Linked DNA regions of Homo sapiens: regions 1 and 2 are each linked to region 3. Evidence: fine-mapped QTL for protein levels in blood plasma. A gene starts in region 3. Each other region holds a variant in brackets. All regions are shown on one strand. Distances are from middle to middle.

What was found. PIP is the posterior inclusion probability: the model's chance that the variant is causal. The UK Biobank Pharma Proteomics Project read protein levels with antibody pairs (Olink). The fine-mapping took linkage between variants from a reference panel, not from the people measured, so its PIPs are less certain.
Region 1: its variant is fine-mapped to the plasma level of the IL2RA protein (UK Biobank, PIP above 0.99). The variant lies in the coding sequence of IL2RA. If it changes the protein, the assay may bind it differently, which can mimic a change of level.
Region 2: its variant is fine-mapped to the plasma level of the IL2RA protein (UK Biobank, PIP above 0.99).

What each region holds. Positions count from the first base shown.
Region 1 is chr10:6,022,421-6,026,420 of GRCh38, reverse strand. IL2RA (interleukin 2 receptor subunit alpha) reads left to right here. Exons shown (of 8, transcript NM_000417.3): 2 at 396-587; 3 at 2,067-2,177. Among named protein-coding and RNA genes, the nearest start is that of IL2RA-AS1, 11 kb to the left of the region's middle. The variant C/T (reference allele first, on the strand shown) is at 2,082.
Region 2 is chr10:6,036,319-6,040,318 of GRCh38, reverse strand. The region is part of intron 1 of IL2RA (interleukin 2 receptor subunit alpha); the gene reads left to right. IL2RA-AS1 (IL2RA antisense RNA 1) reads right to left here. Exons shown (of 2, transcript XR_001747349.2): 2 at 3,897-4,000. Among named protein-coding and RNA genes, the nearest start is that of IL2RA-AS1, 2.9 kb to the right of the region's middle. RefSeq lists a silencer at 1,755-1,814. The variant A/G (reference allele first, on the strand shown) is at 2,938.
Region 3 is chr10:6,060,066-6,064,301 of GRCh38, reverse strand. IL2RA (interleukin 2 receptor subunit alpha) reads left to right here and starts at 1,935. Exons shown (of 8, transcript NM_000417.3): 1 at 1,935-2,214. The coding sequence starts at 2,151. RefSeq lists a cis regulatory region at 1,552-2,182 and an enhancer at 2,175-2,224.

The DNA of each region.
Region 1 (4,000 bases), 38 kb after region 3:
ATCCTTAAAAGTATCTTGCACAGACATATTTTGCCCCTCAATTAAATGTACGTAACTTTGCTTCTTCCTTTCTTCACATTCCTTGACCCTCCTCTCTCCATACTTGCTTGACATGAGGCATATTCGGAATAAAACCTTGTTAATTTCTACTCATCTAGTTTGAAATACATTGTGCTTTGGAGAGGAGCTTGGTTGTAGTTAATTTTTGAGCCAGCTCTGATACAAAGCTTTCTAAAGAACAATGGTAGCAGCCTTAGTTGCTTTCTCACAAAAAGTAGGGCATACCATCTTTTAAATAAAGTGAAGAAATATGTGATTAAGTCATTATAGGATTAAATATGTGAGTACTTGCCTGGGGCCTCTTGAGTTCCTAATAGGCTTCTTTTGCTTTGCAGAGCTCTGTGACGATGACCCGCCAGAGATCCCACACGCCACATTCAAAGCCATGGCCTACAAGGAAGGAACCATGTTGAACTGTGAATGCAAGAGAGGTTTCCGCAGAATAAAAAGCGGGTCACTCTATATGCTCTGTACAGGAAACTCTAGCCACTCGTCCTGGGACAACCAATGTCAATGCACAAGCTCTGGTAAGTGTCCCTTCTGTGACTACCAAGAACAAAAGAACTGCAGCAAAGAGTGAGACAGAGCCCAGCTTTTGTTCACTCAGCCCTATAGACACAAATGGGCCAGTCCAGTCTACAGGATAACTAATTTTAGTGGTTCCTGAAAAGTCATTCACTAAACACAATTTTTTTTTTTTTTGGAGACAGACTCTCACTCTGTTGCCTAGGCTGGAGTGCAATGGCACGCGATCTCGGCTCACTGCAACTTCCGCCTCCTGGCTTCAAGTGATTCTCCTGCCTCAGCCTCCTGAGTAGCTGGGATTACAGGCACCCTCCACCATGCCTGGCTAATTTTTGCATTTTTAGTAGAGATGGGGTTTCACCATGTTGGCCAGGCTGGTCTCAAACTCCTGACCTTGAGTAATCTGCCCATCTCAGCCACCCAAAATGCTGGGATTACAGGCATGAGTCACAGTGCCCGGCCACACAATTTTATTTTTATTTTTGAGACAGTCTCGCTCTGTTGCCCAGGCTGGGGTGCGGTGGTACAATCTCAGATCACTGCAACCTCCACCTCCTGGGTTCAAGTGAATCTTGTGCCACAGCTGCCCAAGTAGCTGGGACTACAGGTGTGCACCACCATGCCTGGCTAATTTTTTTATTTTTAGCAAAGATGGGGTTTCGCCATGTTGGCCAGGCTGGTCTCGAACTCCTGGCCTCAAGTGATTCTCCTGCCTGGGCCTTATAGGCGCACACCACCATGCCTGGCTAATATTTTGTATTTTTTGTTAGTGATGGGGTTTCCCCATGTTGTCCAGGCTGGTCTTAAACTCCTGGGCTCAAGCAGTCCTCCTGCCTCAGCCTCCCAATGTGCTGGAATTATAGGTGTGAGCCACCACACCTGACCTAGACACCCTCTTTTATCCTGAGCTGGAATACTGATCACCCCCCTCACTGGGGCACTCAGACTCAACTCCTTTGCCAAACTCTTCACAATAGAGAGGGCTGTTCTAGAAGTTTCCTTGTCATTGTGTTAAGATGGCGTCTCTAACTTCAAGCATTCTGAACAGCCTTAGGGAGCAAAGGATCAGTGTGTTGTGGAGTGAGACCACTCCTGCTGCTGTCAAACAACACAGAGACAATTGACAGCAAGCAAGGAGTCCCTTTTGGTGAGAGACACACACATGCACACATAACATACATGACATACACAGACACGTAACATACATGGCATACACAGACACGTAACATACATGACATGCACAGACACGTATACACACGCTCAAAAACATGTCGTGGGCATTGCCATATGCACTTGAATACCCAGAGGCCGGTGCTGGGAGGGCATACTCTGGTTTCGTATTTGTAAGCTCAGCAGCCAGACACCACCAGACACATCGTGGGCCCTGGACAGGTGTGCTTCTCAAGTGAATGAATACATGAACAGTGTTTTCTATGAAGCATTTGTGAAATTATCTGCATCATTCCATCTATATTTTCTAGCCACTCGGAACACAA[C/T]GAAACAAGTGACACCTCAACCTGAAGAACAGAAAGAAAGGAAAACCACAGAAATGCAAAGTCCAATGCAGCCAGTGGACCAAGCGAGCCTTCCAGGTGAGAGATGAATCTGTCCTCCAGCTAACTCCTGCTAGCGCACCCTTCTCCTGCAGGCAGATGATGTGTACCCAAAGGAAGAAGGTCTGCCCTGCCTTCTATAAACACATGCATGTGGCTCCGTCCTCCCAAGACATCATTGCAGACAAGAATTAGTGCAGAGTTGCTCAGAGGCTGTTTGCTCAGCAACTAAAGCCAATCTGACGGCAGCCAATCCAGGTCTGGGCTTACTCCCTGGTTTGGTAACTGGCCAAATAGAATTCAACCCAAATTCAACTCAACTTAAAAGCGTCTGTTGGGTCTGTGTGCCAGGCCCTGCTGATAGAAGACACAAACAAGAGTGTGACAACGATCCCTGCCCTCAAGGAAACGCTCTGCGTCTTCCCCTTAAGCACAAGACAACGCACCGCAAAAAAATTACTTGCTTCCCAGTATTTCTTCCAGGGCAAGGTTGTAAAATGTGCATGCCACACTTGTGAGTCTCAAAAGCTCCAGATGCGTGTGTCCTGGCCAGCAGTCTGTGCATGAGTGGGCACTGTGGCTGTCCCTTGTCTGCCCTCTGCTTTCCCACGACTGAATTGGGATTCAGTTATGGTGTCAAGAAAATGGGCTGGGCGCAGTGGCTCACGCCTGTAATCCCAGCACTGTGGGAGTCTGAGGCAGGCAGATCACTTGAGGTCAGGAGTTCGAGACCAGCCTGGCCAACATGGTGAAACCTTGTCTCTACAATCATACAAAAATTAAGCTGGGCATGGTGGTGGATGCCTGTAGTCCCAGCTACTCAGGAGGCCAAGGCATGAGAATTGCTTGAAATCAGGAGGTGGAGGTTGCAGTGAGCAGAGATTGCATCACTGCACTCCAGCCTGAGTGACAGAGGAAGACTCTGTCCCCCCTCAAAAAAACAAAACAAAAAAGAAAAAAAACCCACAGAACCTGCTAGGAAGAATTGAGCTTTCTAAGGTCAGGCTAGCCTTAGGAGACTTCAGAGCCCTTTGCTGATTTTACAACCTTACAAAGAACTGTATCAGATACCATCCCATTTGAGCCTGGCTATACAATGAGTCAGGACCAGGAAGGGTTACTTCAACTTACTGAAGAAACTGAGATGCACAAAAGATAAAAAGATTTGGTTAAGCTCACATAGTAGGGCTGGAATCAGACCTCAGGTCTCCCAGATTAGATGAGGAAACTTTCTGCTGATTACTTATTTTAAAAGAGTTTGAATTTACTTACAGCTTCCATTATTTTATTTTTTAAAACAGACTAATCTAGGGGCACAGTTGCAACATGATGCTCTTACTCCTTCCCCTTCCGACTTTGTCCTGGAATGGTGTTTCCAAGCACATTTGTTTGTTTTGTTCTACTTCCCCCATATCACCCTGCACAGTTATTGGAAGGCTTCAAAGAGGCCAATGCTTGTTGTCCTTTCTCGAAGGCTGGCTCTGCCTGAGGGATGTTTCAAAGATTGTCTCAGTTTGGGTGTTTTCATTGGAAAGAAGCAAACCCAATTCAAACATGTTCAGACAGTTACGAATTGTACTGGCTGTCAAACAACCTTTTATCCTGAGACCAAAACACAAGTTCAGTCGTGATGTTCAAGGTGCCACATGGCAGGAGCCAGCCTGGGACAGGGCCACCCAGCTTCCTGCTGGGGAAGAGGCTCTGGAGGATATTTACAGAGGCTCTGTTGGGTATGCAGGGTTGGGGAGAGTCTGGAAGTTCAGAGCACGTGCGCAGTTTCACAGGCTGGGGTTAGAGGGCACATACAATTCCATATGTCCAGGTTGGGGGCTGTGGGTGGGGAATTCAGAGATTTAATCAGA
Region 2 (4,000 bases), 24 kb after region 3:
AGAATATGAATTCAAAAGAAACTCTATTTCCTCGTTGTGACACAATCAAGCTTTAAGCAATGAACGCTTTAATTATTGTTTTTCAGCTTAGAAAGTAACTATATATTTTATCATTGGGTTCTAAAAACAACACCGCTCAAGAGGTCATTGTAGCAACAATCAAAATTTGTGGAGCATTTTACAGATTTCAATGTCACTTATGTTATTTCAACTGATCCTCATATTTCCATCCTTCATACCCTCACGATTCATGCTTCAGCAAAACATTCTACCTGTAGTCTCTTGTATCTTCCATATGATGATGCTGTTTTACACTTTTACACATTCTCTGCCAGAATGGCCTGACGTGCCTAACCTTCCAGTTGAACTCCCACCCACCTTTCAGGCACCTTATAGTTAAGAGCAGCCTTCATTCTGTTGCCTGGCTCATGGGCAGGGGCAGGATTCCCAGCAAGGGGTACTATGTCAAGAGGCCTAAAAGGACATATCAGCATGGTAAAAGGAAATGGCTTGGGGTGTATGAGAAGCTCCTATGGTTACATGATTGGGAGGAATTCTTTTCATTTCGTGTTACAGACGGAGCATCTGAAATGAGAAGGGACCACAGTGAGCCAGTGAGTGAAAGAGGAGGAAGATTCTGACACCCAGAGCTTTACCTTCAACATTTCCTTCTGTTTATTCCTTATCTAGACTTCCATTTTCCTACCCCATAGATACCCACTCTTTGCCCCTAACTTGCCTTCAACTCCTCTACTGCCTTGTAAATGTCCCATGTGTGCTTGAAAAAAGAGTGGGCTCTGCTATTGTTGGAATCAAATTTGTTAATTGTGGTTATCACATTTGATTGTTCTTACTGATTTTCTGTCTGTCCTATCCATCATAAAGGAAGACACTGTTAAAATTTCTCATTATGATAGTAGATTTCTAAATTTATCCTTGTTTTGTCAATATTTGCTTTGTGTATTTTGAAGTTATGTTATTGGGTGCATAGAAGTACGTAAGTGTTATGTTTTCCTGATTCTTGATTTGTATATTTTGAAGTGATGTTTTTGAGTGCATACACATATAGCATTTTTATGTTTTCCTGGTGAATTGAATCTTTAGCAATACGTACTGACTTCTGTATTTCTATTAATGCTTCTGCCTTGAAGTCTGATGTTAATATAACTCCTTGGATTCAATTGTCCATTCTTTTAGTTTCAAACTTTTGGAGCATTTATGCTTTAAGCATGTCTCTTATAAACATCATATAACTGCATATTTTTAAAAATATATGCAGTCCAACATTCTGTAACTGCAGGGTTAATCTATCCACATTGATAATTATTACTGATATAGTTTGATGAATTTCCACTGTCTTATTTTGTTCTTTATTTTTTACCTTCTCTTTCTATGCATTTCCCCCTTCTTTTGATTTAAGTAAGTTTTTATCCTATTTTATTTTCTTCCAATAGCTTGTAAGTTATTCACTTTACTCTGTCATTTTAGATGTAATTTTTAACATCTTAACATGAATCCAGACTTTACAAAGCCTAGATTTAACCAATATCATAGCCTTCCTCTCAAATAATAAATAACCTTAGAACAAATTGCCTCCACAAACCTTTTCTACACAGTTCCCTCCTCTTCCTCCTTGCTTCTTTGTGCGCATTTATGTTTGCTATTTGAAAGAATTTCCTGAAAGTAAAAGTGAGATTTTTTAGAAGGCTGACATGAGGGCAGCAATAGTAGACTTTCACGTGACTCCTGTCCCACCACCTTGAGCTGTGTGGTTTAGCCAACTTACTTAATCTCTCTGAACCTCAATCTCTTGCTTTCTAAAGTGGGGATGACAGTATCTACCTTCCAGAGCCATGGTGAGCATTGAAGGTAATATATGCAAAGAAGCAGCACATAGGCAGGGCTCAGACATCATAGTTATTATTATATAGATAACCCCAAATGGAGGGCCTGGGCCCTCTGACTTCTTCAAAGATAATAATCTGAACTAAACCACAACATCACACAAACACCTCCCAGCACCCAGATAGTTTAGACATAGCTCCACCTCTTTGTAAGAGATAACCTTCAACAGATAGGTGAAAAGCACGCTCCTTCCTGAAGATTATGATTCTGGGTGTTGGAAAAGCACTGAACTAGGAGTCAGGGAACCTGGTGATCTGTTGTAATCCAAGGCTTGCCACAAACTTGTGGAATGACCACAGGCCCAGTGTTCTTATCTATAAAATGTAGAGGTTGGCCTAAATGATCTTTGAGCTCTCTTCTAGTTCTCATATTCTATGATACCATTAAAAGGGATGTTCTACATCCCTTTTGCACCCAAACCACTTACTTTCTATACGGCCTAAACTTCTGGTTTGGGTTTCCCAAGGAAGCGAGAGACAACCTTCAATATTAGGCATATCTTTGGAGTTCTTATTAAACAGTAAACCTCACCTCACTATCAAAGATAGCCTCTGGCTCCAGCGTCCTCTTTCCAGTCTCCCACAGAGATTTCCTCTGGGAGTCAACGAGCTTAAGGTGAAATTTGGCTAGGGGTCTGGGAGGAATTCTTTTCATTTCATATTACAGACAGAGCATTTGAAATGAGAAGGGGCCACAGGGGGGCAGTGAGCGGAACAAGAGGAAGATTCGGGTCTCTGACACCCAGAATCTATCTGATTCTGACACAGAAGATGAACCGCGTTAGAGCAAGAACCAGATCCCTCTTTACCCAGTGGCCCAAGCTCTTGATGCGTACCTGTGTCCCTTGTAAAGCTCAGTGAAATCATCACCTAGACATTTCCTGTGCTCCGTGCGTTATTCTAATCTTCACTGGGTACAAGTAGAGCTTAAAGTTCTGATATATGGACAGGAAAGAGAAGAGGGATGAAGCCTTTATCCAGGGCTGGCTGGGCTAAGAGTAAAACAACTTCACCTGGATTCACCCAAGGGGCA[A/G]AGAATCTTATCTCAGACTCGGTCCACATCTTTATCAGCCCCCTTTTCCCTTTATCTTTCATGTTGCTCACATGGGCTCCAGGGGCCAGATGAGTTTTCTCTTACTTTGAACATCAGAGAAAAAAAATAACGACAAAAAGTTACTCAACCGACAAACGTTTCTCACCCACACACCTTTCCTCCAGTCAATGACGTTTCCACTGCACCCTGTTAGACGCTGAGTGAGGAAGCATCTGGGCACAAACCGCTGTGGATGCAGATTGAGCAGCACTCACTGTGCACTGGAGGGATGGGAGTCCTGTCCTCACCCAGGGGGCAGATGGAGAGGGGGCAGAGAGAGCAGCCGGGGCTTCACTCCCTGGAAACTCTCATACTCCAAGTGCGGCCTGGGGCTCTGCAGCCCCAGCATCATGTAGGAGCTTGTTAGAAATAGCCTCAATGTCCACACCTGCCCTGACAAATCCCAGTCTGCAAGATCCCGGGGGCTCTGCACACACGCTGCTGCGAACAACCTCAGCATCCGTCCTGCCGGCTCTAGAGCAGCCAACCGGGATATCCTTCTTCTTCAGCAGTGGTGTCCGCTCTCTAAAATGACTGTCCCCCACATCTCTTTCCAGGGTTGGTATTTCTGGTTAACTCAAGGGACACAAAAATAGCTCAGGGAAAAATTAATTTTCATTCTACTCCAATTCTAATAATGAAGTGGTAAAAATTAAAGGGACAGCTTTCAGATTATGGGAGTGCAGCTGCGGGTATGTGGCAAAATCGAAGAAAGAGGGCTCATAATTCCACGTCAGGGAAGAGCCGCTGGCCTGCCCAGGCTGCTGTTTATCTTTACTGTGAATGGGGCCTCTTTTTTGTTTGTTTGTTTTGTTTTGTTTTCACTTAACCTCAGTGGCAAGAAAAATGGGGCCTCTTGCCAGGAGGAGCAGAGAGTGACGCGGAAGGCAAAGACCACCTCATTTCACCAAGTTCCTCGTCTTTTATTTGAAATCCAAGACATAGAAGCTGCACATTTGTCCTTCTGGGAAGAGTGACGAGTGACTGAGAGTGGAGTCGAACA
Region 3 (4,236 bases):
CAGCAAACGACGACAGAGCGTTCATCCGTAAGGTGAACCAGAAAAGCCAGTTCAATGACTTGTTTAACCATGGTCCATCTCAGAACCAAGAGTTGGGCCTCTTATTTACCAGAAAAATTGTGGGGGCTTTGTGATATGGCTTTAAAAAAATCTTGTAATTGCCAGGCGTGGTGGCTCACACCTGTAATCCCAGCACTTTGGGAGGCCGAGGTGGGTGAATCGCCTAAGGTCAGGAGTTCGAGACCAGCCTGACCAACATGGTGAAACTCCGTCTCTACTAAAAATACAAAAACTAGCTGGATGTGGTGACGCGTGCCTGTAATCCTAGCTACTCAGGAGGCTGACGCAGGAGAATCACTTGAACCTGGGAGGCAGAGGTTGCAGTGAGCCAAGATTGTGCCATTGCGCTCCAAAAAAAAAAAAAAAAAGACATTAACATAAATTTAAATATTTTATAATGACAATCCACATTAACTACTTAAAGCATAAGCTATTTTCCAGGAGAGGCAGCAAGTGCATTCTACTCCCATGCCCAAGAAGAAAGGAGCGTGACTTTGGTGGGAGTACTAGGAGTTTCTACTGGAGCACTTGCCCGCAGAGTGAGAAACGTTCCTAGAGAGGAAGTTATACCTGCTGTGGAATTTAAGAGAATCTTGTCATATTTTGACAAGTTTTTTGAGATGGAAGTCTCACTCTGTCGCCCAGGCTGGAGTGCAGTGGCGCAATCTCAGCTCACTGCAGCCTGCACCTCCTCGGTTCCAGCTATTCTCTTGTCTCAGCCTCCTGAGTAACTGGGATTACAGGCGCCCGCCACTACGCCTGGCTAATTTTTGTATTTTTAGTAGAAATGGGGTTTTACCATGTTGGCCAGACTGGTCTCAAACTCCCGACCTCAGGTGATCTGCCTGCCTCAGCCTCCCAAAGTGCTGGAATTACAGGCGTGTGCCACTGCGCCTGGCTAATTTTTTTTTTTTTTTTTTTTTTTTTTTTTTTTTAGTAGAGACGGTGGTTTCACCATGTCATCCAGGCTGGTCTCAAACTCCTGACCTCAGGTGATCCACCCACCTTGGTCTACCAAAGTGCTCGGATTACAGGCATGAGCCACCAGGCCCAGTCAACGTGATGTGTTTTGGAACCCTGAATTCCTTGGCTTGCCCGGAGGGTTTTCTTTTTGTTAATATCTTTGCTTGCTTTCTAGTATTTAAAAAATTGTGTTTTGCTCTAACTATGCAATGGCTTTAAGTCTTAGACAAATTTCCAGGGAGCAAAACACACTCAACCATTTCATAATAATCAGAAGAGAGCTCTGATCAATAAATAAGCAAGACTGAATTTTACAAAATAATCCAAAGTTTAAAACCAAAGCCCACTTTTTGCATGATCCTTTAAGAGAAAGAAATCTGGAAGCAAAACACCTTATAAAATGACAATGCACTTTCAGGAGCCCAGGGCACTGTGGTGAAATGATGATGGCTAGTACAGGTTATAAGCCTTGGGGAATTATTTATGAATTCTCAGGATCCTTCAGTTCGCCGCATCCTTCTCCATTATTTGAATATTGGAGGCTGCCTGACCAGAATCTTGTCAGGACTTTGCTCCTTCATCCCAGGTGGTCCCGGCTGACTCCTGAGGACGTTACAGCCCTGAGGGGAGGACTCAGCTTATGAAGTGCTGGGTGAGACCACTGCCAAGAAGTGCTTGCTCACCCTACCTTCAACGGCAGGGGAATCTCCCTCTCCTTTTATGGGCGTAGCTGAAGAAAGGATTCATAAATGAAGTTCAATCCTTCTCATCAACCCCAGCCCACACCTCCAGCAATTGAACTTGAAAAAAAAAACCTGGTTTGAAAAATTACCGCAAACTATATTGTCATCAAAAAAAAAAAAAAAAAAAAACACTTCCTATATTTGAGATGAGAGAAGAGAGTGCTAGGCAGTTTCCTGGCTGAACACGCCAGCCCAATACTTAAAGAGAGCAACTCCTGACTCCGATAGAGACTGGATGGACCCACAAGGGTGACAGCCCAGGCGGACCGATCTTCCCATCCCACATCCTCCGGCGCGATGCCAAAAAGAGGCTGACGGCAACTGGGCCTTCTGCAGAGAAAGACCTCCGCTTCACTGCCCCGGCTGGTCCCAAGGGTCAGGAAGATGGATTCATACCTGCTGATGTGGGGACTGCTCACGTTCATCATGGTGCCTGGCTGCCAGGCAGGTAAGGGCCTGTGGGTGCCCCCGGAATTCCGGGAAGGCTGATGGGCATCCCTCTTCCCAGCCACAGAACCAGAGGGAGTCCCCAGGTAGATGGTTCCAAGAAGGGAGTTGAATCTTGGGTTCCACCTCTTGCCTGTGACCCACGGGGACCCCAGTTTATGCCTCACTGTTCCTTGGTCTGTCAAGAGAGCCTGAAATAGCATTAGGTTCTCCTGTCCTTCTCAGTCCTTGACAATTAATTCTGGGAAGAATAGTGTGGCATGATATTTGGGATATTTGGATGTTAACAGGGTCCCGATGAGCAGGTTTCTCAAGAAATTATCTTTTATTCTTCAATGAATTTCCTTTTATTCTCTGCACTCCCACCCCCCAACTAAGAAGCTATCAGGAAGCTCTTTAAGTTCAGGTTAATTTGCTGGAGACATGAGTACTCATATATCAAACACTGGGAGAATTTAAGATCTCAGAAAAGTTTAGCTTCAAGGATGTATACACTGCTTTTACGTCTTAGGAAATAACACCTAGGAATTTCCTTACAAGTGCAACTTTACAGAAATTTTTAAAAATATGCATACTCACTTTTAGAACATTACTACTTCTCATAATCCTATGTATATACATGATATGTATATGTATACGTGTTTATATATGCAAATTTTAAATTTCATTCCTTGTTTCAAATGGATTTTCTCGAAGATTTTTTTTTTTTGACACTGTCTCTGTCAGCCAGACTGGAGTGCAGTGGCGCGATATTGGCTTACTGCAACCTTCGCCTCCCAGGCTTAGCGATCCTCCCACCTCAGCCTCCTGAGTAGCTGGGACTACAGGCATACGCCACCACACCTGGTTAATTTATTTTTTTGTAGAGATGGGGTTTTTGCCATGTTGCCCAAGCTGGTCTTGAACTCCTGGGCTCAAGTGATCCACTCACCCTGGCCTCCCATACTGCTGGTACTACAGGCATGAACCACCGTGCCTGGCCAATATTTTTTTTTAAAGAAATAAAAAACCACCAACTTCTACCTCAAACCACTCTTCCTAATTGAGTGTGAATTTTCTAATAATGTCTTCCCTTTGCTTACTCAGGAAGACAGATAAGAAAGTTTATAGTGTTTTTTGAAAGTCTATAATGGCAACAAGTAGAATGCTAACTGGCTGTAGAAAGAATTTATTAAGAAATGAAACATAATGATGCATTTCAGGAGTCTGCTTGCTTGTTTAGGGGAAGTGCCCAGTCATGCTGGGCTGTGTACTGGCCCAGATGTAGGAGTGTCTTTAAAGAGGGCATTTTATTTACTTATTACATTTTTATTTATTTTTTTTTTACTTTTTGAGACAGAGTCTCACTCTGTTGCCCAGGCTGGAGTGCAGTGGCGTGATCTCAGTCCACTGCAACCTCCACCTCATGGGCTCAAGTAATTCTCGTGCCTCAGACTCCTGAGTAGCTAGGTTTACAGGTGCGTGCACCACCACGACCAGCTAATTTTTGTATTTTTAGTAGAGATGGGGTTTCACCATATTGGTCAGGCTGGTCTCAAACTCCTGACCTTGTGGTCCACCAGCCATGGCCTCCCAAAGTGCTGGGATTACAGGTGTGAGCCATCGCGCCTGACCTATGTGTTTTATTTTAATAGGTTTTGGAGGACAGGTGGTGTTTGGTTACATGAATAAGTTCTTTAGTGGTGATTTGTAAGATTTTGGTGCACCCATCACCTGAGCATGTATGCTGTACCCAATGCGTTGTAAGATTTTGGTGCACCCATCACCTGAGCATGTATGCTGTACCCAGTGCGTAGTCTCTTTTCCCTCACCCACCTCGCACCCTTTCCCCTGAGTCCTCAGAGTCCATCGTGCCGTTCTTATAAAGAGGGCATACTTTTAGGAAGGTTTTTCAATGTGATTTCTACATCCACAGGGTCTTTGCTAACTCAGTCTAAGCCAAGAACAGGAAAATCTTGACAATTAATCATGCTCTGCCTCTGGAAGACACATTTCAAGTAAACTCGTGTTATTTCTAGCTATT